Homo sapiens: one gene and its partners. The protein of the gene in region 5 purifies or fractionates together with the protein of the main gene of each other region. This does not show direct contact. Each region holds a gene or a part of one and is shown on either strand. Other genes may lie near its edges. The genes, in order: NECAP1, PPP6R1, PPP6R2, LRCH1, MOB1B, ZNF787 and C1orf116.

Region 1 (4,297 bases), on a different chromosome or scaffold from region 5:
AAAAGCCAAGAAAGAAAACAACTGGGGTTCAATTCCACTGGGGACTCTCTGAGAAATCTCACGGAATACGTATTAGAATTGCCCCTTCCAGAAGGATGGTATTTAGCCACCAATTCCCATTCCCCACAGTTGAGGGCTGCTCCTGAGGGGGTGTTAGTTTCTTAGTCTTTCCAAGTTAAAGCTTGCTCTTAGCTTTCTATAACTTCAGAGAGTCCTAAGGCAGAAAAGGAGAGATATGCTTGCTCTTGAGGTAGGAAGCTGACAGTGTGCACAGTGCTGTCAACCACAGCTGCACCAAAATCAAGTGGGCTAAAGAAATGTTGCAAAAGTCACAAAACATGTCAGCTACATAAGGTAACAAGAGTGGCACACGACTCCCCACATAAAGCCCTGCTGTTACCATAGGCCTCCCTCTACCACCTAAAAGACGGGGCAAATTCGACAGAGCATCATTTCAAACTACTGCACAAGGGATCTGAAATATATTGCAGGCTATAAGGAAAGGAAACAGAATAGATACAAAGATGACCTAAGGAAACAAAAGTGAATGGGGAGATTTATATTCACAATGAAATAGTTTAAGAAACAAAGAAACCAGGAGGAAAAGAGATACTGCCCATTCATGTGAGAAGCAGCATTCCTATAAGCATTCAGCCTCGTAACTAAGGACAAGCTTCACTCACTTGAAGTGATCCTGCAAGGAGACATTAAAGTCGAAGGCATCTCCCCGATCTGTGAAGCCAATGCCAATGAAAGCACTGCGCCCTGTGGAAAACGTAGGAAGACTCGACTAGGAAGTATCCTCTATGGCAGGAGCCCCCAACCCCCGGCACCAGTCTGTGGCCTGTTAGAAACCAGGCCATGCAGCAGGAGGTGAGTTGCACACGAGAGAGCAAAGCTTCATTGTATTTACAGCCGCTCCCCGTCACTTGCATGACCACCTGAGCTCCGCCTCCTGTCAGATCAGTGGCAGCATTAGATTCTCAGAGGGGTGTGAACCCTACTGTGAACTGCACATGTGAGGGATCTAGGTTATGAGCTCCCTATGAGAATCTGATGCCTGATGATCTGTCACTGTCTCCCATCACCCCCGTCTAGTTGCAGGAAAACAAGCCCAAGGCTCCCGCTGATTCTACATTATAGTGAGTTGTATAATTATTTCATTATACATTACAATGTAATAATAATAGAAATAAAGTGTACAATAAATGTGATGCACTTGAATCATCCTGAAACCATCCCCTAATGCCGGTCTGTGGAAAACTGTCTTCCACAAAACGGGTCCCTGGTGCCAAAAAGGTTGAGGACTGCTGCTCTATGGCAAATTTTGCCCAATGAAAATATAACAGTCACCCTAACTAGACAAAGTCTGAATGTGAAATATCTTCTCATAGACCAAGAGTCGATAAACTACATAGAGCCCATGGGCTTTATCCTGCCATAGCCTGGTTTTGTAGAAGAAGTTTCATGGAACATAGTGGTATCAATGTGTTTACATATTTTCTACAGTGATTTCACACTACAACAGCAAAACTGAGTAGTTGCAACAGAGGCCACCTGACCTGCAAAACCTAAAACATTTATTATTTGTCTGTTTGCCAACCTCTGTTATAGACCATGGAGAAAAGAGTAAGAATGACTGCCCCACACGTAAGATGATTCAAGATAGTCCCACCAAAAACTACCACGAACAATAAACGGGCAAAAAGTGTTCATTCTTTTTTTTTTTTTTGAGATGGAGTTTTGCTCTTGTTGCCCAGGCTGGAGTGCAATGGCGTGATCTCGGCAACCTCCACTTCCCCAATTCAAGTGATTCTCCTGTCTCAGCCACCCGAGTAGCCGGGATTACAGGCACCTGCCACCACGCCTGGCTAATTTTTTATTTTCAGTAGCGACAGGGTTTCATCATATTGGTCAGGCTGGCCTCAAACTCCTGACCTCAGGTGATCCACCCACCTCGGCCTCCTAAAGTGCCAAATGTGTTAATTCATTTGTTAGATATGTGTTTTTCATTTATTTAAGTCTACATATGAATTACCACATCTTGAACTCGTGCTTATCTATTACAAATAACATGTTAATACTTTTCCTTTAGCAACTAGAGCAACTTTAGAGAAAGGGAAGAAAAAATGAAGTAAACCAAAGAAAGATAAATGCAATCGGAAACACTTTTCATGGCTGTGCATTCACCTGTTTTCCTAACTTCGTTCCACTCAAAATCCCAGTTCTCTTACCAGTACCATCCTGGATCCGGATTACAAAGTAGCGGCTAGAATCTGTCACCGTCTCCACAGCAATACCAGGATATTGTTCTACTGGTGCCTGAGCAAAGAGCTCCCCTGACAGATAAGAGAAAGACTTTTTTGAGTAAAGCAAGCCAAAATCCAGAACCCCAATTAACAAGTAGTATTTCCATTCCAGTCCCCAAATTGAAGGTACTTATAAAAGCACACCAAATTAATATTCTTAATGTTAGAGGGTCACCCGCAAAGATTACCTGAAACTTTATCCTCGAGTTTGATATAGGCAGTCTTCCCTTTTGAAGTGATTCGGAGGCGACCAGTCCAATCAGGCTGGTCTAATTTCCAGTCAGAGGCCCTAGGACAGGAAAAGAGGAAGCCTCAGGCACATGTCCTTAATTTACTAACGCCCACCCACAATCTTTGACTGTATTTCTATTTCCCTATCCTGGATTGCCTATTCTTTCTACCTATTAATCAACAAGAATAATTCATGATCTATTTAGATGCCTCATGTTACATACAGTCCAAAGCAAGTAAAAGACAATGCTACTACTTGAGGACTTTGGAGTCCAATAAGCATCATTAAAAAGATGGAAAAGCACGAATAAAAGCAATAAAAAATAAAATTCTGGCCGAGCATGGTGGCTCAAGCCTGTAATCCCAGCACTTTGGGAGGCCAAGGTGGGTGGATCACTTGAGGTCAGGAGTTTGAGACCAGTCTGGCCAACACGGTGAAACCCCGTCTTCTAAAAATACAAAAATTAGCTGGTTATGGTGGCGTGCGCCTGAAATCCCTTGGGAGGCTGAGGCAGAATCAACTGAACCTGGGAGGTGGAGGCTGCAGTGAGCCGAGACTGCGCCACCGCTCTCCAGCCTGGGCGACAGAACGAGACTTGGTCTCAAATAAAGAAATAAATAAAATTTCTCATAACGATGCTATTTTCAAACTATAGATGGTATACTAGATAACCATGCTTTACTAATCAGATAACAACAAAGTCTACTACATTAAATATCCTAGGTAATGGGAGCCCTCCCAAATCAGTAAATATACTATCTTTCACTGAATTCAATCAATATTTATACAGTACTTATTAGGACAGATGCATCACTGTTCCAGATGCTTAGGATACAACAGCAACCAAAACAAAGATTCCAACCCTCATGAGGCTTACATCCTAACAGAAGATAGAAAATAAAAAAGAAACATAATAAACAGCATAATTAGTATCTTAGAAAGTGGTGAGTTCTAAGGTAAAAAGAAAATGTAGAGGCAAATTAGGAAGATTAAGAAGACAGTGGGAGAATGAACAAGTTGTAGCATTCAAGAGGGTGGTTGGGGTAGGTCTCATTAAGGTGAAATGTGAGCTAGAATGTGAAGCAAGAGAGTTATCCATACAGATGTCTGGGGGAAAAGCATTCTAGACATAAGGAACAGCTAGCCCAAAGGTGCTACGGTGGGGGCATGCCTGGCATGTTTGAGAGACAACAAGGAAGCACTGTGGTTAGAACAGAGGAAGAGACAAGGTGGGAGAGGTAACAGACGGCCAGATCACGCAGGGCCTTGTGGGTCATAGTAACAACTTCAGCTTTCACTCTGAGTGAAAAAAGAGCTATTACAAATTTTAAGCAGAGGTGTGACATGATCTCCCTTATATTCTAAAAAGATTACTACATCTGCTGTCTGGAGAAAAGCTGTTGGGATAAGAGGACTGAAGCAGGGGGATTAGCTAAGAGACTACTGCAGTAATCTAGAAAAGTCACAATGGTAGCAGAAGTGGCTATATTCTGGATATATTTAGGGTAAAAGTAGCAGGATTTTCTAATGGATTAGATATGGGATAGAAGAGAAGGATATATTTAGGGTAAAAGCAGCAGGATTTTCTAATGGATTAGATAGGGGATAGAAGCCAAGGACAACTCCAAGGTGTTTAGCCTGAGCAAAGAGTTGCCAATTATTGAGATGAGAAGGAACACATCTAGGAAGAAGGATCAGGGATTCAGTTTTAAATATGCTGAGTTTGAGATGTCTAGTAGATTTTCAAGAGATGTAG
Region 2 (4,297 bases), on a different chromosome or scaffold from region 5:
GTCTTGCTCCCCACGATGAGCTCATTTACGGCCAGGGAGACTGAGGCCCCAGGACATAGCTGGTTAGTGTGTGGGAGCTGGATGGCTGCCCATGGCTGCCCCGGGGTCCCTGTACAGCACAGCGTAAGGGACACCACGATGAGGGATAGTCAGCTGTTCCTGGCTTAGTCCACAGCTGGACAGAGGTCCTCTCAGATGCAGACGTGATATCCTGTGTTGGCTGCTTCTGTGCCCAGCATGGAGACTTGCAGAGCGTTGGTCTTTGTGGGTCAGTGGCCTGTGCCGAGACCCCTGGAGAAGATGCTCAAGTGAAAACTGGGCTGGACACAGTGGCTCACATCTTAATCCCAGCACTTAGGGAGGCCGAGGCAGGAGGATCGCTTGAGTTCAGGAATTTCAGCCCAGCCTGGGCAACATTGTGAGACCATCTCTGCTTTTTTAATTAAAAAAAAAAAGAAGAAAACCCCACCCTGGCAGGAGAATGAAGGGACTGACTGGTAGATGGCATTGGGGTCACCAGCTGCCCCTTTCGGGATGAAACTGTTAGCTTTTCCTCTACCAAGAAAATTCCAGAGGGGTTAAGAAGTTAAGTGAACAAAACTAAACCCAGAAAGATTTCCGGAATGGAAAGTGGATGACTGGTTTGATCATCTCAAGGCTGAAGATGCTGCCCCGCATAGCTCCTGTAGCAGAAGCCAGGTCAGCTGAGGCTGCCAGTGCCACGGGGACATGGGCTGCCCTGCCCTAGACCCACTGTGTGCCCAGCGTGGTCTCTGCTCCGCTGCTTCTCAGTGTCTAGGAGGGACTAAGGACACTTGCCTTGGAAGGTGGTTGTGAGAATGAAGTGCGTGAGTAATGTCTGTCACATACTTAGTGTCCTTTAAGAATTAACTGTCCTTTATCCATTGATCTTTGTGGCAGAATTTTTCATGAATTTGAGACAAATGATCCCTTGAACTGTCCGTAACACGTGGGACAGAATGTGGACCCTGATCATTAGACCCTCGTGGTGAGGGAGGTGGGGCCCTGGCAGGCACAGTTTAAGTTTTGACGTGATTCTTTTTCCCATAATTTAGAATTTCAGCCGCGGACCGTAGACATCTTGAGGTTAGGGGATGTGCTTTATTGGGCTGTAGTCTCACATTCTGCTTGTGCCTGGCTGGTGTGAGTGTCAGCCTCCTACAGATGCCCCAAGGATGGGGACAAGGGCATGGATCTGAATCCCTCTCTGGCACCTGTCCTTGGAAGAGCCTGAGGAGAGTCGCTTAACATTTCCGAGCCCCATTTTCTCACTTCTAGAGCCAAGGGAAACAGCCTACCTCAATGAGTGGTTTTAAGGATTTAAAGTGATCATATGTGAGATGTTGATATTCATGTATGCGTTGCCCCTTAGGACCAGTGGTTCGGGTTGTGTGTGAATTTGCAGATACCAAATCTGCAAGTAATGAGGGTCAGCTCTGTGTTGAGTGAAGAAAGAAATGTGGCCTGTCCTGTGCTGCCCCCACCCCCAGGTGGACCTTCTCACCATGCCTTGCCTTCTCTCCTAGCGCACCTTTTGACAAGACAGCCAACATCACCTTCTCCCTCAATGCTGACGATGAGAACGTGAGTACTGCCCTGTCCCCTGGTTGTGGCGGGTGGAGGGGTGTGGGGCTGTGGGCAGTGTGGCCCATCCTCCCACCCCTGTGCCCTGCAGCCCAACGCCAACCTACTTGAGATATGCTACAAGGACCGCATCCAGCAGTTTGATGATGATGAGGAAGAGGAGGACGAGGAAGAGGCCCAGGGCTCAGGGGAGTCTGATGGAGAAGATGGCGCCTGGCAGGGCAGCCAGCTGGCCAGGGGGGCCCGTCTGGGCCAGCCACCTGGTGTCCGGTGAGTCCCCCTCCAGTTTCCCTTCTCCAAGCTTCCACCACACGGCAGGGCCAAGGGGTCCCCCCAACACATTTGGACTGAGGCTGAAGTGAATGAAGAAAATAAGGAACCTGCATTGGTGTGTGTATTAGTTGGGGGCACTTTCACTTTTGAGTGATAGAAATCTAATTCAAGGCCAAGCATGGTGGGCTCATGTAATCCCTGAGTGCCTGTAATCCCAGTACTTTGGGAGGCCAGGGCAGATGGATTGCTTGAGCTCAGGAGTTTGAGACCAGCCCTGGGCAACATAGGGAGATCCTGTCTCTACAAAAAATACAAAAGTTAGATGGGCATGGTGGTGTGCACCTGTAGTCCTGGCTACTCGGGAGGTTGAGGTGGGAGGATGGCTTGAGCCAGGGAGGCAGAGGTTGCAGTGAGCCGAGATCATACCACTGCACTCCAGTCTGGGCAACAGAGCCAGACTTGTCTCAAAAAAAAAGGTAGATGATGCATTAAGAAATCAACAAATTAGCCGGGCACAGTGGCTCAAGCCTGTAATCCCAGTACTTCGGGAGGAGGCCAAGGTGGATGGATCGCTTGAGCTCAGGAGTTTGAGACCTAGCCTGGGCAACATAGCGAAACCCTGTCTCTACAAAAATTACCTGGATGTGGTGACGTGTGCCTGTAGTCCCAGCTACTTGAGAGGCTGAGGTGGAAGGATCGCTTTACCCTGGGGGGCGGAGGTTGCAGTGAGTTGAGATCGCACCACTGCACTCCAGTCTGGGTGACAGAGACCTGGTCTCAAAAAAAAAAAAAAAAAAAAGAATCAACAAATTAAAAAAAATCAGCCGGGCACGGTGGCTCACGCCTGTAATCCCAGCACTTTGGGAGGCTGAGGCGGGCGGATCACGAGGTCAGGAGATCAAGACCATCCTGGCTAACATGGTGAAACCCCGTCTCTACTAAAAATACAAAAAATTTGCCGGGCGTGGTGGCGGGCACCTGTGGTCCCAGCGACTTGGGAGGCTGAGGCAGGAGAATGGCGTGAACCCGGAAGGCGGAGCTTGCAGTGAGCCAAGATTGCGCCACTGTACTCCAGCCTGGGCGACAGAGCGAGACTCTGTCTCAGAAAAAAAAAAAAAAAGGAATCTAATTCAAATGAGTTAAGTTATGAAAAGAAAGGGATAATCTCTGTGGCTGAAAAAATAGGCAGGTCCTGAGGTATGGCTTGGTCTGTGTGTGTCTCTCTCTTCCCGCCTCCCTGTCTCCTTCCTTCATCCCTTCACTTCACTTCCTCGTGTTAGCTCTCACACGTTTTCCTAGAAAGGGGGGTAAGATGGTCCCAGGCAGCTTCTCTCTTCTCTAATTCCAGTAAAATGAGAGATGATGACGTCCCTCTCCAATCAGGCTGTGATGACATTTTAGTGCAAATGTTACATTGTTTTTTTTTTTTCTCTTAATACTGGCCGGCCCCAGAGTCGCTGTGATGAAATGGGTTCATGCCATGTAGATTTGACAGCCTGAACACTAAGTCATCATCTGCAACTGAGTTTTTGACTCATGACTTTTGATTTCGGAATTAGGCTGTTTTCACTTTTTATTGACATGTAACATGCGTATAGACAAGTGTACATACAGATCCTGAGTGTGTGGCCAATGGATATCCTTCCTCAGTGCCCAGACCCAGGAGCAGGACCTTCCCAGTACCCACATCCCCTCTGTTAGCCAGTATCCTCCCTTCTGAGGGTAAAGTTGTCCTGGCTTCTAACCCTGTAGATGAGTTTTGTCTCTGTTTTCACTTGATATAGCATACAGCATCTCCTTTTATGTCTGACCTCTGTTGCTCAACACTCTGCTTGTGAGCTCCTTCCCTGTTGTGTGTTTGGGTGCCCCTGGCTCTCGTGCAGTGGGGCAGTGCCATGCATGATGAGCTGCAGCTGAATTGCTTGTTCTGCAGTTGACAGGCCTTTGGGCAGGTTCCTGTTGCTCGCTGCTGTGAGTGCAGCCGCTGTGAGTGCGGCCGCTGTGAATACCCTTGCACGTGTTGTTGGTGCACAAGTGTGTCACTGCCAAATCCAGCATCTTGACTTAGCCCTCTCTTTTCTTCTAAGAGTTTTATAGCATTATTTCTATGGTTTTCCATTCATTTTGAGCTAAATTTTGTATATGATGTGAGGTGGTCCACCTTCATCCCTTTACATATAGATAACCAGTTTTCCCTGCACCAGTTGTTGAAGACACTGTCCTTTCTCCACTGAATCATCTTGGCACCTGTGTAAAAAGGAAATATTTGACCATATGTATGAGTTTGTTTCTTCCCTCTCTGTTCTGTTCTATCAGTCTGTGTGTTGTTTTTATCCAGTACCACACTGGCCTGGTTGCTGTTGCTTTATAGTAAGTTTTGAAAATGGGAGGTTTGTTGGGCACGGTGGCTCACACCTGT
Region 3 (4,297 bases), on a different chromosome or scaffold from region 5:
CTGGGTTCAAGGCATTCTCCTGCCTCAGGCTCCCGAATAGCTGGGATTACAAGCATGCACCACCACGCCTGGCTAATTTTTGTATTTTTAGTAGAGACGGAGTTTCACCATGTTGTTCAGGCTGGTCTCGAACTCCTGACCTCAGGTGATCCACCCGCCTCGGCCTCCCAAACTGATTACAGGCGTGGGCCACCACACCCAGCTGCTTTTTTCTGTTTTTTTTTTTTTTAAGATGGAGTTTCACTCTTGTTGCCCAGAATGGAATGCAATGTTGTGATCTTGGCTCACTGCAACCTCCGCTTCCCGGGTTCAAGCAATTCTCCTGCCTCAGCTGGGATTACAGGCGCATGCCACCACGCCTGGCTAATTTTTTGTATTTTTAGTAAAGACGGGGTTTCACCATGTTGGCCAGGCTGGTCTCGAATTCCTGACCTCAGGTGATCCACCTGCCTCAGCCTCCCAAACTGCTGGGATTACAGGCATGAGCCACTATGCCTGGCCACATTCTGCTTTTGTGGGTGTGCTTTTATTTATTTTTGGCAGAGATGGGGCCTCACTATGTTGCTCAGGCTGGTCTAGAACTCCTGGCCTCAAGTGATCCTCCCGCCTCAGCCTCCCAAAGTGCTGGGATTATAGGCACGAGTCACCACGTCCAGCCCGTTTTTTTTTTTTTTTTTTTTTGAGACAGGGTCTCACGCTGTCGCCCAGGCTGGAGTGCAATGGAGTGATCACAGCTCACTGCAGCCTTGACCTCCCCAGGCTCAGGTGATCCTGCCACCTCAGTGTCCGAGCAGCTGGGACTATAGGCGCACACCACCATGCCCAACTTTTTTTTTTTTTTTTTTTTTTGAGAGGAAGTCTCACTCTTGTCGCCCAGGCTAGAGTGCAATGGCACAATCTCGGCACACTGCAACCTCCACCTCCCAGGTTCAAGCGATTCTCCTGCCCCAGCCTCCTGAGTAGCTGGGATTACAGGCGCCCACCACCATGCCTGGCTAGTTTTTTTTGTATTTTCAGTAGAGATGGAGTTTCACTATGTTGGCCAAGCTGGTCTCGAACTCCTGACCTCAGGTGATCCGCCCGCCTCAGCATCCCAAAGTGCTGGGATTACAGGCGTGAGCCACTGCGCCCGGCCCTGCTTTTTGTTTTTGTAGAGATAGGGTTTTGTCATGTCCCCAGGCTGCCCTGGCCTTAAGTGATGCTCCCACCTCAGCCTCCCAAAGTGCTGGGATTACAGGCGTGAACCACCGCACCCAGCCCATGTGCTTTTAAATAAATAGCCATCCCCAAGGCTTTATACCTTGCCCCCATGATGACAGTTGTATACCTGCGGCTTGGCCTCTCCTCTGGGTTCCAGACCCTCCTGTAAGATACCTTCTCCCTAGTGACCCTCGGACTTCTCAGACTTCCCCTACTTTCAGCCAAGAGAAAGCCTTGCTTTCTACTTCCAAACTGTAGTAACACCCCCAGCCCTGACACCACCCTAATTCAGCTTCCCTATTTCAATAAACAGTGCTACTATCCACCCATTTGTTCCATCAGAAAGCCTAGAAGGGTTGATGGGGCTGGGAGGATAAAAGCAGCCCAGAAATTACCCTGAGTCCATTCATTCTCTCACACCTCTCTTCTCATCTACCAACAAGTCCCAACAGCTCTACCTCCAAAATATCTCCCTAAACCCACCACCAAGTTCTAAACCATTACAATCACTACACCCAGCTCCCAACACTTCATCTCACCCCCACCTGCTGTCCACGTGCCAATGTCCATATGATCATGGCACTCTCCAACTCAATCTCCAGGCCAGGTTTCTCCTACAACTCAGACTGAAGGTCCAACTCCCTACTAACACCTGCAAGGAACGGCTTAATGAGAAAACCAACTTTCCAGCCCAGGCTCCTGCCTCTCTCTCCCTTACCATAAGCACATCAGTCTTATCTAGGTTCCTGGAGGATATCACACCCAAAATTTCCCACTTCAGGGCCTTTGCATGTGCTGTCCTCTCAGCATGGGAGACTCTGTCCCCCAATTTGTCTCAAAGCTAGCTGCCTCTCACATTCCAAAGATTAACTGAAGTGAGTTAGAAAAGTCAAAGGGGAGAGATATATACACCTATTGTGTACCCACAACATTTTAAAGTAAAAAATAAAAACAAAGGGAAGATAAACCAGAAAAAGGGACATCAAAAAGAGGTGAAGAGCCTCTTTCAGTGAACAGTGAACAGTGTCGGCAACTGCAGGGGCAAGGAGAAGCCAAGAGCAGGGCAGAGAGAGGCCATGAGGGAAGGGTGGATGAAAGAACAAGACACAGGAGAAGGGTCTAGAACAAAATCAGTGGGTACAGTGACAAAGAGGGGGCTGCAGTGAAAGGCAGGGACTAAATGGAAGTGACAGACTTGGGGGAGCTGGTGCTGACAGGTCAGGGAATGAGCAGCAAATTGGGAGGAGTCAGTAACAAGAGAGTGGACAAAGCAGGTAGGGAAGCTGCGAGTACACAGAGTGGCAGGTCGGGGGACAGTACGGTGCATGGGGGAAGGTGACAGGCTGAAGGAAGAGATGATGGGGATGGAAGCAACAGGGCAGTGCGGGGTAAGGTGAGGTTAGATGACTGGTGATATCTCAAGCCGTGATGGGGAGCGCGACAGGAAAAGACGAGTAGTGTTGGAAAGGGTTAGGAAATAATGGAAAGGGGAATCAGTGATTGGACAAGAGGGGTGATGACAGCGGGCACTGAAAGTTCTCCCACTGACAGGCAGGAGAGAAGCAGTGGGGAGACACTGACAGGTGGGGTCACTAACAGCAGGGCAGGGTACTAATGGGTCCCTAACAGATAAGGGATGAAGGAGGTAGCATGAAAGGGGACAGGAACTGACAACAGGGGAGAACTGATGGGGAGGATCTGACAGGCACTAACACAGAGGCCGATAGCAAAGAGCGGAAGGGCCACAACAGGCAGGATGAGGGAGACACTTATGAGGGAAACTTACTGACAGTGGGGCTCACTGACAGAGGCACTGGCACTGATGGGGGGCACTGACAGAGAAGATCAATGACAGGTGGGGACATTGCTGACAGAAGGGGTCACAGAGCGCTTGGACTGACAAGGAAGGGCACTGGCAGGGGAGGGATTATGCGGTCAGTGACTGACGGGTACGGGTGGGGGTGCAGGCACTGATGGGAAGTGGGGACATGACAGAAAGAAAATAATTGACTGGGGGGGCACTGGCTGACGGGGGACAGGGATGCGGGACTCTGACTGGGGGACACTGATGGGGAGCAGAGTGGACTGACGGTGGGGGAGCACTGACCAACAGTGGAGGCACTGACCAGTGCGCGGACTGACAGATGCGGAGGCACTGACCGACAGGAGGAGCATGACTTGCAAGGGGCACTGACTGACGGTGGGGGGCACTGATGGGTGGGGTGGGGACTGATGGGTGAGGTGCAATGACTAGCTAGCAGGGGACACTGACTGGTGCAGGAAGCACTGACTGGTGTAGGGTGGGGGAACAGAAGGAGGGCACTGACTGGGGGGGCACTGACTGACTGGGAGGGAACTGACTGGAGGGGGCCCTGACTTGGGAGGAAACTGACTTGGGGGGCACTTACTGGAGGGGAACTGACTGGAGTGGGCACTGACTGGGGGCACTGATTTGGGGGGCACTGACTGGAGGGGGCACTGACGGGGGAACTGATTGCGGGGGGAACTGACTGGGGGGGCACTGACTGAGGGGAACTGACTGGGGGACACTGAAGGGGGCACTGACTGGGGGGAACTGACTAGGGGATGCACTGACTGGGGAGAACTTACTGGAGGGGCACTGACTGGAGGGGACAGTGACTGACTTGGGGGGGGCACTGACTGGGGGGCACTGACTGACTGGGGGAACTGACTGGAGGGGGAACTGACTGACTTGGGGGGCACTGACTGGGGGGCAACTGACTGGGGGAACTGACTGGAGGGGGCACTGACTGGGTGGGTCACTGACTGGAGGGTTCACTGACTGGGGGGAACTGACTAGAGGATGCACTGACTGGGGGGAACTGACTGGAGGGGGGCACTGACTGGGGGGGAACTGACTGGAGGGGGCACTGACTGGGTGGGTCACTGACTGGAGGGTTCACTGACTGGGGGGAACTGACTAGAGGATGCACTGACTGGGGGGAACTGACTGGAGGGGGGCACTGACTGGGGGGGAACTGACTGGAGGGGGCACTGACTTGGGGGGCACTGACTGGGGGGAAACTGACTGGAGGGGGCACTGACTGGGGGGGGGAACTGACCGGGGGGGGGGAAC
Region 4 (4,297 bases), on a different chromosome or scaffold from region 5:
CATTGCCCAGAGTTTATCAAGCGTAAAATGAAAAAAAAAATTAAATGTGTGTGTTAACTTTCAGAGAGAACTACTTTATATCCAAGTCTACATAGACCAGGGTAAAAAATGCACTAAGAGAATGGAGAGTGGGGGTAGGGATTCCATTTTAAACTTTATAGTTTTTCATTTAGTAAGGTTAAGTTGAAATGTCCCACGTGAAAATCTTATTTTTATGCCACTGATGAGCACATGATACCTTGAATATTAAAACTGTGTGAAAGGCAGAATGATGTGTAAATTGCAGAACAGGCCGTTCCTCCATGGCGAGATTGTGAGTGAAGGATTTCTTTGACCCATTGGCACAAAATAGGTATTCTATTCTACTATTATGATGGATTAAAAAATCTTTGATGATGAAAGGGTCTTACCTGCTTGAAATAAGGGGTTACTCCTGCCATTTGCTAGTAACCAAAAATGTGTGCTTCTTTCTAGCTGTTCCTCCGTGTATTTTTAATTGTATGCACTGTCTCTTTCTGTTCTAATGGCTGCCCTCGGAATAGGCTGACCTCTGCTCTCCGTGTGACATCCTGCAGTTGGATTTTCGTCACATTCGAAAGACTGTTGACACTCTGCTGGCACTCGGGGAGAAAGCCCCACCACCAACTTCTGCCCTCCGCTCCAGGGACCTTATAGGCTTCTGTCTTGTCCATATTCTCTTTATAGTGCTGGTCTATATCACTTACCACTGGAATGCTCTGTCCGCATAATGTCTGCACGTGCATCCAAACGCTGTGCTCTGTCGCCCTCAACCTTTGCAGGGTCCTTCCTACCTTTGAGCCTTTGCCTTGCAAACTTCCATCCCTGTCATGTCTTCAGTTATCTCTCGAGTTTTGAAGCTGAACAGTAGCAAATCAGATTTTCCAGAAGCACAAACTTTGTAGAATACAGTTTAGTATAATTCCTCTCACTTACTGAAATACAACGACGACGACTGCAAAGTGTATGCACACCGCATGCTTCCTCATCCACATAGTGCCAGCAGCAGTGCCACGCAGTTCCTCCTCTCCCTCCCGGTGAGCTGCTGCCCTGGGCAGAGGGGAGGAGAATTCCAGGACAAGAGTGTCAAGGACAGGGATTTAGCATATGGAAGTCTTTCCTTTGGGTCAGTATTGAACTAGAATTCTAATTCGGGACTGGGCAATTGAGCTGTATAGGGGCCACCTTGCAGGGAGGACAGAAAACTAACATTTTGGCCCAACTTGATCTATACAAAACTTTAATAATACCACTACTGACCAAGTTGGACGTGTACACGTACTCACACTGCCTTGATGGCCATTCGATTGGATTCCTCCCAAATTTCCTAAAAAGGGAGCCGCGAAGGGCGCTGGGCAGTGTGGCCGCCAACTTCCACCCCGGCAAGCCCCTCTGTCCTATGCAGAAGGGCGCTCAAGGGAAGGAAGTGTCGTTGCTGTTAGAGCCTCACGTGGAGGAGTCACTTAAACACCAGTTTTTTACTGCTTAATTCCTTGTTAGGTCTTCTCTTGAGGCTCTTAGAAAAGCGTTTTCCAGAGAGATTTCTATTTTTGAACAATGGAACGGATCACTGCTTTTTTGCCACATCACATAGTAACTGCCGGTCCAGAATGTGACGGATTCGACTCTATTCATTTTCAAATAAAGCCATGAGCCGTGGAACATTCTTGGTCCTGGTGCTTGGGTTATGATGGCAGGAGTCAAGAAGAAGATTACTTTCATTCTAGAAGAATGTAGTTTCTCTAATTATTTGAAATGTTCATTTAGCCTTTGATTTTCACTGATATTAACTAGCAAACTGCTTTAAGTCAGCTCAAAGGATTATATAGTAACTATATCTGCATTTGGAGCAATGTGATCAGTTTGCATTTAAAAGGAAAAAAAAGAATTTTATCTTAGCCAGAATGTCCCTGGATTCAGGGGTGTCTTTGTATAATATGAGAGGGCCTTGTTCCAAGGTCAAGGCAGCCTCCTTATTTTACATGCTGTTTGCCAAATCTTGTTTCTTAGCTTGGGGAGATGATGGACTTAGCTTCCTCAAGATAAATTTCTAGTTTATTAAGATGCAAACAGCTCTCATAGATGGCTACTACGAAGAAAATCTTATTTTTCTGAACATTTTCATGAATCCAGGGGACTTGAAAATATGGAAGACCCACATAGTTAGAAGAATATATTTATAAAGATTCCTTGCTGCTAAGTCAGATCAGATTTGCTAACAGGAAGCATTCTTTACATGACAGTATCTTGAGTTATGTGAGTTTTTTTTCCTCCTGACTTTGTGTTGATTGGTGAAATGCAGGGTATGTGGAAGTTATCTAATTAACCTCAGTTGTATATGAATAACCCACAGATGTACTGAATTACTTTTGGTGCTATCTTGTACTCTTCAATCTGTAACACAATAAAATCCCTTTGTACGATGTCTAATGAGCACCCTGAGCCATAAATTGCTTAATAAACACATTTTGGGTGATTATTCCAAGTTTTTATCAGCCCATTGATACATGTATTCATGAGCTCTCAGCATTCCCATCCAGCTCTGCAGTGCATTGAGGCTTCTCTTTAATGGTCACCACTGTGGTGGTTTTTCCCTTCTTTCTGGGGAGAAAATGGGAAAAAAAAAAAGAAAACTTACTGGGTTGCCACCTTAAAATAATATCAATAAAAACTGAGTAGGACACTCATGTAAGAGTAGATTTAATTTTCAGTGTTGATATAGTTCAATTAAAACATGTTAAAGACAAATTAAAAGACATTTATATTTTAATTCTGGCATCCAAAGTATTCTTTGGACGCACTTTGATTTTTTTTGTGTCATTAATTTGTCTGTACTCTGCTGCGCTGCACTTCTTGGGATTTATTGGATGATGTTTTTTCATTAGTAGTATGGTAACTAGCAGAACACAATTAATTTAGTCCTTTAGGCAAAAATTTGAATGAACTGTTCTGTCCATTGCCAACCCATTAATTTCTAATCAGAATATTAAGCTTCTCTGTGGTTTTTCTCCAAGGTACCCGTGCACCAGCCCATATGCTAACTGGATGCCTGCGGATGCCTGCCCTTGCAGCTTGACTGGGGATACCTGGCTGACCTCCTTAGAGTCTGAGAAGTAGTCAGGGATGTCACTGAGTGGTTTATTGTGCTGACCAAATCTCCTCCTCACAAGAAAGACCGTTTTTTCAGTACTCCCTTCCAATGTTAGATAAAAGGAGCCAAGTATCTATTTACATTTTATTTTGAAATAGCCATTTGTATTCTCTTTCTCCAGTTTCTCCAACTGGTGGCAACTCTCCACTCAGTGTCAGGAATTCCAAAATTTGTGACACCTAATTTCTAATCATCTTTCCTATTTATGGATTTCTGGTTTGTTATTTTTAGGGAGAGACACTTATGAAATGGGGCTGGTGGAAAGGGGCCCCGCAGAACTACAATGTATGATAATCGAGTATAAATTTCATCAATGAGAGTAGATAAATAAAGGCACTTGATAGCCTGCTGCTATTTGTTTGTAAGAAATTAAAACTAGCGCGTGGTGAGCTGGGTTATCTCTCGAAAACTCATGTAGATGCCTGATTGAGTCATAAGGACAAAAGGGTGTTTTGCCTTTGCCTGTGGGGAAAAAGTAGGGATGATATTTTAAAATTTTAAGAAACTGAAAGTTGTTTTGGATTAGGTGAAAAATACTTTAATATGATTTTATTTCAGGAGACTTGATTTTTAAAAATTAGGCTTCGTATTTCAAAATTAGTTCTCAATAAACAATCAATTTGGTATATAGAATGTGCCCTTTTTTTCTTCTTTAAGATGGTCAGAGTCTAGTTGCCTGGCTTTTCACTGTGACTTTGTTCATTTTTGTGTTCATTCCTTCATTCCATAAATATTGAATGAGCAATCTCTGCAAGGCCCTGGGGATAAAAAAGTCACTGGGACACATGGCCTGGTCCTCAAAAAGCTTACAGTCTATAGCAGGAGTCTGCAAGCTTGTTTCATAAAGGGCCTAAAGGAAACATTTTAGGCTTCTTGGGCCATGCAGATTCTGTTGGGATTACCCAGTTCTGCTTGTGTACCATAAATGCAGCCTTAGACAATACATCAAACATAGGTGTGGCTGTGTGCCAATAAAACTTTATTTACAAAAACTGGCTGCGGGCTGGATTAGCCTGTAGGCCATAGTTTGCCACCCTTGATCTAGTAGGTCCTTAGACAAGTAAAGAGGAATTCAAGTGATAAGGACCTGTGGTGGAACGGGTACAGGATTCTGGAAAAGAGACCTGA
Region 5 (4,297 bases):
AACCCTATCTCCACAAAAAAATGATTAGCCGGGTGTGGTAGAACATGCTTGTAGTCCCAGCTACTCAGGAGGCTGAGATGGGAGGATCCCTTGAGCCTAGGAAGTCGAGGCTGCAGTGAGTCGAGATCGGGCCACTGCACTGCAGCCTCGGCAACAGAGCAAGACTCTGTGAGAAGAAAAGAAAAAAGAAAAACACTACAGACATAAGTGGATGCAATACATGATTCATGACTGGATCCTTTTGTCGAAGATTACATTGTTAAAGCAACAGATGAAACTCAATGGGGTTTCTGGATAAGGAATATGTGGAAGTTCTTTGCACTGTTCTTTGCAACTTTCCTGGAAGTTGAAAAATGTTTCAAAATTAAATTTAAGGCCGGGCGTGGTGGCTCACACCTGTAATCTCAGCACTTTAGGAGGCTGAGGCCGGTGGATCACCTGAAGACAAAGTTGAGACCAGCCTGGTCAACATGGTGAAACCCCATCTCTACTAAGAATATAAAAATTAGCTGGGTGTGGTGGCGGGCACCTGTAATCCCAGCTACTTGGGAGGCTGAAGCAGGTGAATTACTTGAACCCAGGAGGCAGAGAATGCAGTGAGCAGAGATCGCACCACTGCACTCCAGCCTGGGAGACAGAGTGAGACTCCATCTCAAAAAAAAAAAAAATTTAATTTAAAAATCACTTCTGTAAAAGAATGTTACTTCACAGCTACACTTATACTTAATTAAATGTGTTGTAAAAGATGGACCTAAGGCTGGGCACGGTGGCTCACGCCTGTAATCCCAGCACTTTGGGAGGCTGAGGTAGGTAGATCACTTGAGACCAGGAGTTCAAGACCAGCCTGGCCTACATGGTGAAACCCTGTCTCTACTAAAAATACAAAACTTAGCTCAGCATGGTGGTAGGCGACTGTAGTCCCAGCTACTCGGGAGGTTGAGGCTGGAGAATCACTTGAACCCAGGAGGCAGAGGTTGCAGTGAGTCAAGATAGTGCCTTTGCACTCCAGCCTGGGAGACAGAATGAGACCCTGTCTCAAAAAAAAAAAAAAAAAGATGGCCTTAAGTTGGTTAATATAAAACAAAAATGGAAACGTAGGAAGAAAAGGAGAGTTAAAGTTCTCTACAGGACTCAGTTTGACATTCCTAACAGGTAGAACTGTTTCATATTTTTCAAGTAACATGTAGCTATTTTGCCTCAATATCTCCTAATCAAATACACAGTTTAGGGAAGTGCTACATGTATTAGACACGTGCTTTCATATATCAGAAACTCCGAAAGTACAAAAACTGCAACTACACTTAGAGAAAGAAATCAATAATGGTAAAAGTAACCAAATGGCAATTATTTTGCACTCTAGTATGTAAAGGAAAAAAAAGCTATCTCTAAACATGATAAAAGTAAACTAAAGCCAGTCAGTCCTGCAATTCCCAAAACTACAGTTCTTTCTGAAAAGATGACCATATTTACTTCCACTCCCCACATTCCCTCAAAAATACAACATATTAAAAAGGATAACATATATTATATATAAGGATATAATATATGACATATATGTAAGATGTTATCCTTTTTAATGTTATATTAAATTCTATATATTTAATAACAAAAAGAAAAAAATAAAATAACCTTACAGTGGAGAATATATTATAAGGATATAATATCTGATATCCTTTTTTGTTGTCAGATAAAAAACTGTAAGATAATACTTGGTCATCAGCCATTCAAAATGATGTTGCAGAAATCTATTCTCTGGCAAAAAAAAATTTACAAGTAAAAAACCTGGTCTACGCACGGTGGAAATCCATTTGTATATTTTTAAATACATACAAACAAAAATGCAATAAAAAAGATTCAGAAGAAGTTAGCAGGGCGCGGTGGCTCACGCCTGTAATCCCAGCACTTTGGGAGGCCAAGGCGGGCGGATCACAAGGTCAGGAGTTCCAGAACAGCCTGGCCAATATGGTGAAACCCCATCCATACTAAAAGTACAAAAATTAGCCAGGCGTGGTGGCGGGCACCTGTAGTCCCAGCTATTCTGGAGGCTGAGGCAGGATAAACGCTGAATCCAGGAGGCGGAGGTTGCAGTGAGCTGAGATCATGCCACTGCACTCCAACCTGGGTGACAGAGCAAAGCTCTGTCTCAAAAAACAAAAAAAAAAAGATTCAGAACTTTATCCCTAAATACAAACAACAGTTGTCTCTGAAGGTGTGATTATGAGTGATTTTTATTTTCTTCCTTTTCCTAACATGATTTTGTGATTTCTCCAACATGTATATTATTTTTACACTAAAGATAAAGGTTAAAAATATTTAAATATTATATGAATTTAAAAGTTACTATTTCGTCTTCTACTAGTGTATTCTTGGTGAATCTTAGAAGAGAGTCCCAGCATCATGAGACAATAATGCCTGGTAACATAAGACTTCCCTTAATAACAAGGCCCACTTGAATATCACCTTTAAGAAAAAAATATATATATAGATATACATACACACATATATACATACATATGTGTGTATATATGTATATACACGCATGTGTATGTGTATATATATCTATATATAGATATAATTTTGTTAATTATAGATGATAGTATAAGGCAGGATCAGCTGGGCGCAATGGCTAGCACCTATAATCCCAGCGCTTTGGGAGGCCGAGGCAGGCAGATTGCTTGAGGCCAGGAGTTCGAGACCAGCCTGGCCAACACGGCAAAACCCCATCTCTACTAAAAACACAAAAATTAGCTGGGCATGGTGGCACACGCCTGTAGTCCCAGCTACTCAGCAGGCGGAGGCAGGACAGTCACTTGAACCTGGGAGGCAGAGTTTGCAGTGAGCCAAGATAGCGCCACTACACTGCAGTCTGCGTGACAGAGTGAGACTTTGTCTCCAAAAAAAAAAGGCCGGGCGTGGTGGCTCATACCTGTAATCCCAGCACTTTGGGAGGCCGAGGTGGGAGGAGCACCTGAGGTCAGGAGTTTGAGACCAGCCTGGCCAACATGGTGAAAATCCCATCTCTACTAAATATATAAAAATTAGCCAGGCATGGTGGAGGACACCTGTAATGGTGAAGGGCACCTGTAATCCCAGCTACTCAGGAGGCTGAGGCAGGGAGAACTGCTTGAACCCATGAGGTGGAAGTTGCAGTGAACCAAGATTGAGCCACTGCACTCCAGCCTGGGTGGCAGAGCAAGACTCCGTCTCAAAAAAAAAAAAGAAGTATAAGACAGGATCTCTGGACCTAGACTTCCAGGACTCAAATTCCAGCTACACTATTTACTGGCCACATGATTTTGATAAAATTATGTAACCTCTCTGTGCTAGTTTCCTTATGTATAAAATAGGATTCCTGCTAATTACTGAACTATTTAAAACACTTTGTCCCTGGCACATAGTAAACACTCATTGAACTATTATTGTTATTTTTTTTTAATGTTTTCTTTTTAGAGGCAGGGTCTTGCTCAGTTGCCCAGGCTAGAGTGTACTGGCACAAGCATAGCTCACTATAACTCAAATTGGCTCAAGCCATCCTTCTGCCTCAGCCTCCCAACGTGCTGGGATTACAGGCATGAGCTACCACACCTGGCCTATTTGATTATTCTTATAAATTATTAACTTTTTTTAAAGGTGAGGCTGCTGAAGCATTAAAATCAGTTAAATCATTTGCCTGAAAACAAAATGCTGGCTTTGGGGGCTTGGGGGGAAGTGAGGGACAGAGAGACAGAGGGAGACAGAGATAGACACATATAAACATAGCACTATCATGAGTCTAGAGAGAAAGAGACAGACACATATAAACATAGCACCATCAAGAGTCTAGAGAGAAACAGAGACAGACACAAACATTGCACTATCATGAGTCTCTTTTCCTAAATTGCTAATTTTTTTTTTTTTTTTTGAGATGGAGTCTCACTCTGTCGCCCAGACTAGAGTGCAATGGCACAATCTCGGCTCACTGCAACCTCCGCCTCCCAGGTTCAAACAATTTTCCTGCCTCAGCCTCCCGAGTAGCTGGGATTACAGGCGCCCGCCACTACGCCCAGCTACTTTTTTCTATTTTTAGTAGAGACGGGGTTTCACCATGTTGCCCAGGCTGGTCTTGAACTCCTGACCTCATGATCCACCCGCCTCAGCCTCCCAAAGTGCTGCTAAATTGCTAATCTTTTTTTTTTTTAAGACGAAGTCTCACTGTGTTGCCCAAGCTGGAGTGCAGCGGCATGATCTCGGCTCACTGCAACCTCCACCTCACGGGTTCAAGCAATTCCACTGCCTCAGCCTCCCGAGTAGCTGGGAC
Region 6 (4,297 bases), on a different chromosome or scaffold from region 5:
TGGTCTCGAACTCCAGACCTCCACTGATCCACCTGCTTTGGCCTCTCAAAGTGCTGGGATTACAGGTGGGAGCCACCGCATCCAGCCAGGGAGCCTGTTTTAAAAGAGAGATCTGGGTATGAACCCTTCAACAACTCGGGCGCGTGGCAAAGGCTCTGCTCTCCACTTTAGCTGTGTGTGTGCGTGGCACCGCTTGGTGGTGTGCGTAGAGAACCCTCACAGTGCATGGCACAGGTTGGTGTTGGTGTGCGTAGAGACTTTCACAGTCACGGGTTGGTGGTGTGTGTAGAGATCCTCTTGGTGCATGGCACGGTTTGGTGGTGTCATGTGTAGAGACCCTCATGGTACGTGGCACGGGTGGGTGGTGTGCGTAGAGACCTTCCTGGTGCGTGGCACGGATCAGTGGCGTGTGTAGAGACCCTCACTGTGCGTGGCACGGGTCGGCGTGCGTAGGGACCCTCCCGGTGCGTGGCACGGGTCGGCGGCGTGCGTAGGGACCCTCCCGGTGCGTGGCACGGGTCGGCGGCGTGCGTAGGGACCCTCCCGGTGCGTGGCACGGGTCGGCGGCGTGCGTAGGGACCCTCCCGGTGCGTGGCACGGGTCGGCGGCGTGCGTAGGGACCCTCCCGGTGCGTGGCACGGGTCGGCGGCGTGCGTAGGGACCCTCCCGGTGCGTGGCACGGGTCGGCGGTGTCGTGCGTAGGGACCCTCCCGGTGCGTGGCACGGGTCGGCGGTGTCGTGCGTAGGGACCCTCCCGGTGCGTGGCACGGGTCGGCGGCGTGCGTAGGGACCCTCCCGGTGCGTGGCACGGGTCGGCGGTGTCGTGCGTAGGGACCCTCCCGGTGCGTGGCACGGGTCGGCGGTGTCGTGCGTAGGGACCCTCCCGGTGCGTGGCACGGGTCGGCGGTGTCGTGCGTAGGGACCCTCCCGGTGCGTGGCACGGGTCGGCGGTGTCGTGCGTAGGGACCCTCCCGGTGCGTGGCACGGGTCGGCGGCGTGCGTAGGGACCCTCCCGGTGCGTGGCACGGGTCGGCGGCGTGCGTAGGGACCCTCCCGGTGCGTGGCACGGGTCGGCGGTGTCGTGCGTAGAGACCCTCCCGGTGCGTGGCACGGGTCGGTGGTGTCGTGCGTAGAGACCCTCCTGGTGCGTGGCACGGGTCGGTGGTGTCGTGCGCAGAGACCCTCACGGTGTGTGGCACGGGTTGGGAGTGTCGTGTGCAGAGACCCTTAGGCGCCTGTTGCCCTGTTTCTGCTGTGATGGGTAAGTATCTGCCAGGGGTGTGGGAACTCCAGTCCCTGTTTGGCATGAGCACCACATGTACACTGTCTTGTGTACGCTTGACAGTAACATGTTCTCCATCTTGCCAGTGAGGAAGCTGAGGCGCGAGGAGGCGCGAGGTGGGGTTGCTTGCCCCAGGTCCAGCTGGGGAGTGGTGGGGCTGGGATGGGAACTGGCGGTGGTTGTAGCCCTTGAGGGTCCTTGAGTCCTTCCTGCGGCTGTGTGAGGCCTTGGCTGGCCCCTGCAGTGGGGAGCGGCCAGGCTAGCTCCAGGCCAGTTCTCGGTGTCCTGGGGTAGGTGCTGTGTGCCTTGTCTGCCGGGCGCTGTGCCTGTCACGCCGGGGTCTGCAGGCTGCCTCCCTGCAGGGCCCTCGGTGCAGCCTGGCACCCCATAAACTCTGTCCTTCTGTCTCATCCCCTTCTAACAGGGACCCAGACATGGAGCTGCGGGAAGAAGCCTGGTCTCCGGGGCCGCTGGATTCTGAGGACCAGCAGATGGCCAGTCACGAGAACCCAGGTGAGCAGCCAGAGGCCTTCCCAGCCGACCCCGCTGCCTCCCACCTGACCCTGGCTTCCTTTGCCTCTGGGTGGGAGGAAACCCCCCTTCCCTGTTTTCCCCTCTTGGGGCCCTGGGACCACCCGACCCTGGCCTCCCCTCCCGCCCTGGGCCTTGCACTCCTGGCTGTAGAGGGAGGGCTAGTGTTGTGGCTCCAAGTTTCCTTTCTGCTGGATGATCTTGGGGACCCCTGGGGGCCACCTTCTCTGCCTGACTTCCTCTGTCCTTGCCCCTCCAGCCTGGGCAGCACCCCCGTCTGTTGAGGGTGCCCCCTTCCTCTCCCCACAGCCCCGCCTCCACATCCTGGACCCTCTGCTATGATTCCAGGCGGGCCTGTGGCCCTCCCTGGCAGGAAACTCCTTACACCAGGGGTGGCCCAGGAGCGCAGGGAACCCGCAGGCTGATGCCGACTTTTCAGGGAAAGCTCAGGAGTGCAGGGAACCCGCAGGCTGACGCAGACTTTTCAGGGAAAGTTGTCAGTTTGGGTTTTTATGTGAAATCCTTCACTTTTTGGACATTGGCAATGTGTTTTGTTTGTTTAATAAAGCATTATTGGGGTTGAGCAAAACTCATTTGTGGGCTACGTGGGGCCCAGGTTTGCTTGCGAAGGCCCCATGGTGACCTCACTGTGGCCCCTGACACCTCATGGCCTCCCTCCCCTCCACGGAGGCCGCCTCCCTGCCTCAGACCTGAGGAATAAGGTGCGGCAGCTTCTCTCCTTGCTGTGTCTGCATGTCAGGCCCCAGGTCCCAGGCCCACGCTGGCCCCACGCTGGCCGGGGCTCAGCAGACCTTTTCTGCAGAGAGCCAGAGAGGAAATACTGTTCATCTTGCAGGCTGCGGGCCTCACAGATACCACGCAGCCACAGTCCACACGGAAATGCGTGGGCACACTTGATGCAGAAAGGCCGGCAGAGCTTGCCAGCTCAGGCTGGCATAGCTGAGTCGTCCCATACAAAGACCGGGGTGAAGTTTGGGATCGATTTTGTAAAGCACCTCAGCCCCTTTTTGAGTGATTTCTGAGATCTGTGGATGGAGCATGAACAGAAGCTCCCTGTGGGCGGGGCTGTGGCAGCCTTGGTCCCGGGGTAGAAACTATGATGGGGGTTTTGAGTGCGTTGCCAGGACCGCATGCCCAGGGGGCCCACACCCCGGCCCCAGGCTGCCCCGCGTCTCAGTGGGTGGTTGCCATCCCGCACCGCCACAGCCCTCGAGGGCTGCCCCTGCCTTCTCCCTCGCATACATCCTTGGCCTTCGAACCTTTTCGAAAATTAATTCTGTGGAAATCTCAAGTGTGTGGACGCAGTGTGATGAATCCCTCTTCCTGCGCCAGCGATTCGCGGCACTGCTGGTCCCTTTCTGCCCACTGTGGTTCTCTTTCCACAGCGTTTTAGAGAAAATATCCATCACATCATTTTGTCTGTAAATTCTCCAACATGTAAGGACTCCTTGAAAAAAAGAAAAAGCCCTACAGGAAGCTGATCTCATCTAACAAAATGTCATTTTTCAGGAACTTCATCTAATCTAGCACCCGGTCCTTTTTAAAATACTTCGTTGTCTCCAAAATGCTTGTCTTTGAGTAAGTTCATCTTTAATTTTACAAGTCACTCATACACTCACTCTCTTTGTAGAAGGTAGGTGTCAGGTCCCCTTGTCCAGCCCGCTGCCCTGCCCAGCCCTGGCCCTGCGTCTGTGGGAGTCCTGTCCCCCACCAGGCAGCTGGCTCCGGGGAGGGCCTGCGCTTGGCGCCGCCTCTGGAGCATCACCCCTGCGTGACGCCCTTGCTCGGCTGTCAAAGATGGGCTGCGCACGCTCCCAAGCTGCTCTGGTGTCCGGCGTTCGCGTAACTCCCGTGTGGGGTCCCGCCTACATGCGTCCCCCCTATGTGACAGTGACAGACATCGTAGGTGGGGGTGGAGTGGCGGGGGTTGGCCTGGCCATGGCGTGTGGAGTCCCGCCTACATGCGTCCCTCCTATGTGACAGTGACAGACATCGTAGGCGGGGGTTGGCCTGGCCATAGCATGTGGGGTCCCACTTACGTGCGTCCCTCCTATGTGACAGTGACAGACTTCGTAGGTGGGGGTGGAGTGGCGGGGGTTGGCCTGGCCATGGCGTGTGGAGTCCCGCCTACGTGCGTCCCTCCTATGTGACAGTGACAGACATCGTTCGTGGGGGTGGAGTGGTGGGGGTTGGCCTGGCCATGGCGTATGGAGTCCCGCCTACATGCGTCCCTCCTATGTGACAGTGACAGACATCGTAGGTGGGGGTGGAGTGGCGGGGGTTGGCCTGGCCATAGCATGTGGGGTCCCGCTTACGTGCATTCCTCCTGTGTGACAGTGACAGACATCGTAGGTGGGGGTGGAGTGGCGGGGGTTAGCCTGGCCATAGCATGTGGGGTCCCGCTTATGTGCGTCCCTCCTATGTGACAGTGACAGACATCGTAGGTGGGGGTGGGGTGGCGGG
Region 7 (5,059 bases), on a different chromosome or scaffold from region 5:
GGAGGACTAACCCATTCCTAACATTGTGTAGGGTTGAGGCCACTATAGCAAAGGAGCTCCATCTCTGTGAGTCTAGGCACACAGAAAACACTCAAAAAATGCCGAATGAATGAACTTGCCATCTGTTCTAGGGTCTATTAGGTTGAGCTTTTGGAAGGCTTCTTCTTGGTTTCTAACCTATAACTGTCAGCTTTTACTTAAATACTTAATTTCCTGGATAATATATGGCTCAGTGAAATTTGGGCAATGTTTTCAGTTAAACTAACATTTATGAGCACCTAATAATAGGCGCTGGTGTTACAAAACTGTATAAGACAAAGGCATTGTTGTCAAAAAGTCAATGTAGATCTAAGGGTCTAGTTTTGGGCTCCAATTTTCTTCTCTGTAAAATCAGGGCAGTAAATATTTAAAGTGACTCACTGTAATTAACATCATATTCTCTATGAATGGGTGAGCAGATGCTGCCTCTTACTTTCAGAGAAAATTACTACCCTTGTGCTTCTAAGTATGCTTTAGACTTTACAGAGGTTTTCTAGTCTCTCTTTCCTACCAGGGAAGCTTATCACACTTTTGTTTCAGAACCTAGGATGTCTTCAAGTAGCTGGAAGAGATAAAAGTGGTAGGAAAAGCACTGCTTCACAAGAACACAGCATGCCATAGCTTGCAAAGTACTCTCAGATATGCTAATTCGATCTTCAGCATAAACTGGAAACATAGGCAGGATGTGACGTTTTCTTCATTTTACGGGTGAGAAAGTTATGGCTCTTACCACTAGCCCTTCCTAAGGGAAACAGGGAATGACCTATACATGCATATACAGGGCAGCCCTCCACAGGGCATTTCAGGGACTATCTGGATGCAAGAGGGGCATGCCCCCGAGAATGGTTACTAGCCACCCCTGACTAAAATACTAAAAGCCTTAAAACCCCCTTCTCCTTCTACTTCATACCTTAAACCCTGCAAATCATCTGCTTCAGCTTTATACTTCCAGACCAGTGTATTGCCCCAACAGCAGATATTTCTACAGTAAAGAAATGACACCAACTGCCAAGGAAGATCATGTCTTTAGGGATTACATAATCCCTGCACAGAGGAATCTGAACCTGAAACCAAAGCTGAGCGAGGCGCTGTCACCTCATCTCCATACCTAGTTTTCTGACCTAAAGAATCTTAATGGTGAAAGCTGCATTTCCTTTCACCGACTTCACAACCTTGAACCTTGGGGCTCTTTCAGGGCAGCCATCGAAACCCTGATAAGAAGACTGAGAAACAAACAAAACACTCAAGGTGAGAGTTTGGTATCTTAACCCTTGACCTCTTTGGGAACTTAACGGGAGGAGGGAATGGGTTAAGAAATATGCAGCACCTATAGTCAGGGCCACCCATCCAAAGACACATTAAATATTAACTACACCACTGACTAAAATACTAAATACTGCCAAGCCTTGGAGGAGAGGAAATAAAGAACAGTTCAAGTTCTGGCATCTGGAGATGGTGGGGTGGGGAGAGGGCTCCAGCTCCATTCCAGGTTGGCTTGTCTGTACCTTCTAATCAGACCCAGGTCCCTCTCATCCTCCTCCCACGAACCCCCCACATGTCCTCCAAGAGCTTTGCCTCTCTGCCTACTAGTCAAAGAGGTTTCCTGTCTTTCAATCCAGGTGTCTTTGCTTCTTGTTGACTACCCAGAAATGTGCCTTGGGCTGGAAAATATCCTAAGAAAAATAGCAGAATGACTAAAACTTGCACAGTTTGCATATCTGTCTCCATGAACACATGGGCAAGTTTCTGTGTGTGTTTAGGCAACATTATCATCTTCCCTTTCACCAGTGTGTTTGAGGGAAGGAGCAGGTAGAAATACCCTCTGCATAGCAGAGCTTTGTTAGACACTGCCAGTGGTCTTTATTCCTAAATTCACCATCTAGGGCAGCCCTCAGTCTGTGAGTGTGGGGTGTTGGCTCTGTGGTGTGAGGTGAGCTCAAGCCTAAATCTCCAGTTGCCAGGACTGGAAAACCCATATATTCACTCAGGGCTGCGTGTGCCAGGCCCTTGAGCCTGGCACTGAGGGCTTCCCACTTCCCTCTTCTCTGCAGCAGGAGGAAAAGAGTCAAAGTTAGGGACCAAAGGGTTAAACCCCCCAAGATGGATAATGGAGAGGCAACTTGCTACTCTGACTCGACTCCTACATCTGCCTTCCTTCTGCAGGTAAATCTGCCACACAAACTGCCAACTGGGACACCTGCAGGAAAACAAACAAAGCCACCACCCTGGTCTGCTTCTCTGTCTGTGGACTCTGCCACACTACCTTGGCTTGAGCCCCACTTGGAACTCTAACTAGACTTGACATGCAGCCACGAAATATTCATGTGGGTGAGGCTCGGCACAGCCAGGTAGCTTTCTGTTTGCCAGTCTCTGTGTCTATTAACAGGCTGAGTCAGAAAGTTAATTGAGTAGAATCCAAATAAACTTGACTTTGCAGCTAGATTATCCATGGGTTTTCCAAAGATGAGCTGGTAGCTGAAGTTTTCTCCATGTGCCCCAACCTCATATCCCTTTACAAACAACCTAGTACAGCTCATGCCTAACACACCTGTACACAGAGAGCTCCATTATCACATGAGCATGATCAAACACACACACACATTGCACCCATTATTTAAATAAAGATCGACACCGAGTTGGTAAAGCCACGGGAGAATTTCCTGTTACAGTCGCTATGGAAAACCAAGATACTCTCCCCCATTTTGACTCCCTCTATTTCAACTGTTCTTTTCTAAAATCACAACTCAATTTCAATTGTTCAGAGATGGAAATTTCCAAAACAAATCTATTTTCTTTTTCTTGTTGTTTGCACAATATGCCTATCCAACCTAAAGGGATAAATGAAAAAGAAGGTGCCTCCCAGCCCCAGTCTCCACAAAAACACTACAATCTCAAGTTGCTACCAACCTGATCTGATCCCAGAATGGACTCAGAGAATTGAGGAACAGAGAGGAAATCTCCCTAGCTGGGGTATAGAGGGACACCTCCCCTCCCCTGTAGCTCTGATTTCCCATGAAACCCCTTCCTATTGCTATAGGATAAGCAATAGTTGGTTAGTGATTAACTCACCTCCACTGGGTTGGGGGCTGAAGAGAGAAAAGAAATACCCTTTTGTTTCAAAGGGCAGAGATGGAGACAGAGGCTGCTTCCCCTGCCTCCTACTGTTTTCTTCTCCTTTTGAGCTCCTCCTGACTTACCTAGATAGGTAAATGCTTCATCTGTGCTGCCTGGCCCCCACCCTGCCACTGACTCAGCCAATCCTAGCCTCCCCTCCCTACCTCTCATTCCAGCTGTTTCCTCAGGGAGGGAATGGGAGGGGAATGAGCAGGGTGGTGCTGTTCCCTCTTAGCCAATCATCTCCTACCCTCCCCTTTCCTGTTTAGAGCTAATAAAGAGCTCTTTAAAAAAGGAGGGCTGGAAGGAGGAGGAGCCGGTTTGGGCTGAGACTGGAAGGACAGGTGGCAGGGAGGGAGTAGGCAGAGATAGTATATATATTTAATGTTGATATAAAGGAACGCAGACAGTCCTCTGGGCAGTGTGCTTTTCCATAGGTCTATGTGAAACAGGTTTTTCATCTAGAACTACCTTCTTCCGCTTGGAGCTTAGTTTTCCCCTGAATTCTCTAGGCTAAACTCATTTGTGTTCAGTTTTGCTGCTAGCTTTTCTAGATGTTGAAAGTCACTTTCTTCCCCAAGCCTAATCCTAGCTCATAAGCCTAGCAATTCCATTCATGTCCACTGAAGAAGGTGTCCCCAGGCTAGGGATGCTGTAGTTGGGCCAGTCTCGCCCCAGTGCTTGCCAACAATCTCCTTGGCCTAATTTATTTCTGGGGGAAATAAAACCATTCATCCCCTAAGAGGTCCGTGTCCTGATGAAAGAGTGACTGGACAGCTTGAAAGGAGAGAGCATGCACTCTGTCATTTGGTCCTCTGCTCTCTTTTGGCTGTTCATGGAAGGTGGCAATACATATTATGAAATAAAAACAAAACAAACTACCAACCAGTTTAGCAACTCTTGTCTCCTTTCATGGACTGATACTTGGCATTCGTAGGGAGAAGAGAGTAGGTAGAAGAATCTACTATTTTTGGGAAGAAATTTCCCACCAGGTACAGAGACCACTCTTAACAGATATGATTTTTGCCTGGAAGCTGGTTTTTCCTACAGGTAGATTATCCTTGATAGGTATCAGGATTTGAGGTATTCCACTTACTAGCATTAAAAGGTCAGGGAGAAAATTTAAAATCAATGTACACAATAATTGCCAAAATGTATTAAGCTCTTGCTATTTGCTAGGTATTGTGCTGAGCATTTTCATGTATCTTTTAATTTAGTCTTTAACTTAAAAAAGTAGGCATTTGTTAATATCTAAATTTTACAGGGAGGTTAAAAATCTTTTTCAAGGCCATGTAGCTAGGAAGAGGCAGGGCAGAGATTTTAATTCAGGCAGTATAACATCAAGGTTGCTATGAATCAGCATAATGCCAATCCGCCTCTATTTTGGAAGGAATCTCAAGTGGGAATCATGAAATACACAGATAATTTGCAAGTGTAATTCTAGCTATTAGATTCGTCCTTTTCTGTTTCATTTCCTACTTAAAGCTATTAATATGTTTTATAACAAGACGACACATGGCTTTCATCTTTTCTCTTTCTGTGATCATGGTTGGATAGGAAATAAAAAGGGCAGTGATCCTGGGGCCAAGGTAAAGATGAAGTGGAGCAGGACTAATGGATAGGAAGGAGGTTGGAGGAAGCCTGGGATAACCCAGTACCCTATCAGCAGCCTATGGATATCACAGCTGAATGAGCACTTCGGGCTATGACCTCTTTCCCTGGTGTGTCATTCAAACATATATGATGTCATAATACTAACAAAACAGGAAGGGCATCTCCAAATCAGCAGTTCAGTGCAACCAGAGTCACACCCATGGATGAAGTCAATGAAGTTGATCCAGCTCCATAGGTGTGTGATTTGAACATTTGCTAAAAAAATGAATTGACTTATGAGAATTAACTTCCA

The links.
Region 1: the proteins of MOB1B (region 5) and NECAP1 fractionate together in Homo sapiens (co-fractionation; one large-scale study listed by BioGRID). This does not show direct contact.
Region 2: the proteins of MOB1B (region 5) and PPP6R1 purify together in Homo sapiens (affinity purification with mass spectrometry; one large-scale study listed by BioGRID and IntAct). This does not show direct contact.
Region 3: the proteins of MOB1B (region 5) and PPP6R2 purify together in Homo sapiens (affinity purification with mass spectrometry; one large-scale study listed by BioGRID and IntAct). This does not show direct contact.
Region 4: the proteins of MOB1B (region 5) and LRCH1 purify together in Homo sapiens (affinity purification with mass spectrometry; one large-scale study listed by BioGRID and IntAct). This does not show direct contact.
Region 6: the proteins of MOB1B (region 5) and ZNF787 purify together in Homo sapiens (affinity purification with mass spectrometry; one large-scale study listed by BioGRID and IntAct). This does not show direct contact.
Region 7: the proteins of MOB1B (region 5) and C1orf116 fractionate together in Homo sapiens (co-fractionation; one large-scale study listed by BioGRID). This does not show direct contact.

Annotation. Positions count from the first base shown.
Region 1 is NC_000012.12:8,088,237-8,092,533, reverse strand, and holds part of NECAP1 (adaptin ear-binding coat-associated protein 1), read right to left. Parts: intron 2,599-4,297; coding exon 2,498-2,598; intron 2,340-2,497; coding exon 2,235-2,339; intron 766-2,234; coding exon 684-765; intron 1-683. UniProt on the Homo sapiens protein: Involved in endocytosis.
Region 2 is NC_000019.10:55,234,221-55,238,517, reverse strand, and holds part of PPP6R1 (serine/threonine-protein phosphatase 6 regulatory subunit 1), read left to right. Parts: intron 1-1,547; coding exon 1,548-1,605; intron 1,606-1,696; coding exon 1,697-1,875; intron 1,876-4,297. UniProt on the Homo sapiens protein: Regulatory subunit of protein phosphatase 6 (PP6). May function as a scaffolding PP6 subunit. Involved in the PP6-mediated dephosphorylation of NFKBIE opposing its degradation in response to TNF-alpha.
Region 3 is NC_000022.11:50,345,748-50,350,044, reverse strand, and holds part of PPP6R2 (serine/threonine-protein phosphatase 6 regulatory subunit 2), read right to left. Parts: intron 1-4,297. UniProt on the Homo sapiens protein: Regulatory subunit of protein phosphatase 6 (PP6). May function as a scaffolding PP6 subunit. Involved in the PP6-mediated dephosphorylation of NFKBIE opposing its degradation in response to TNF-alpha.
Region 4 is NC_000013.11:46,741,100-46,745,396, forward strand, and holds the end of LRCH1 (leucine-rich repeat and calponin homology domain-containing protein 1), read left to right. Parts: intron 1-542; coding exon 543-749; 3' UTR 750-3,799; downstream 3,800-4,297. UniProt on the Homo sapiens protein: Acts as a negative regulator of GTPase CDC42 by sequestering CDC42-guanine exchange factor DOCK8. Probably by preventing CDC42 activation, negatively regulates CD4(+) T-cell migration.
Region 5 is NC_000004.12:70,908,655-70,912,951, reverse strand, and holds part of MOB1B (MOB kinase activator 1B), read right to left. Parts: intron 1-4,297. UniProt on the Homo sapiens protein: Activator of LATS1/2 in the Hippo signaling pathway which plays a pivotal role in organ size control and tumor suppression by restricting proliferation and promoting apoptosis.
Region 6 is NC_000019.10:56,100,637-56,104,933, reverse strand, and holds part of ZNF787 (zinc finger protein 787), read left to right. Parts: intron 1-1,706; 5' UTR 1,707-1,716; coding exon 1,717-1,795; coding exon of another isoform or gene 1,796-2,097; exon of another isoform or gene 2,098-3,284; intron 3,285-4,297. UniProt on the Homo sapiens protein: May be involved in transcriptional regulation.
Region 7 is NC_000001.11:207,029,471-207,034,529, forward strand, and holds the start of C1orf116 (specifically androgen-regulated gene protein), read right to left. Parts: upstream 3,287-5,059; 5' UTR 3,109-3,286; intron 1-3,108. UniProt on the Homo sapiens protein: Putative androgen-specific receptor.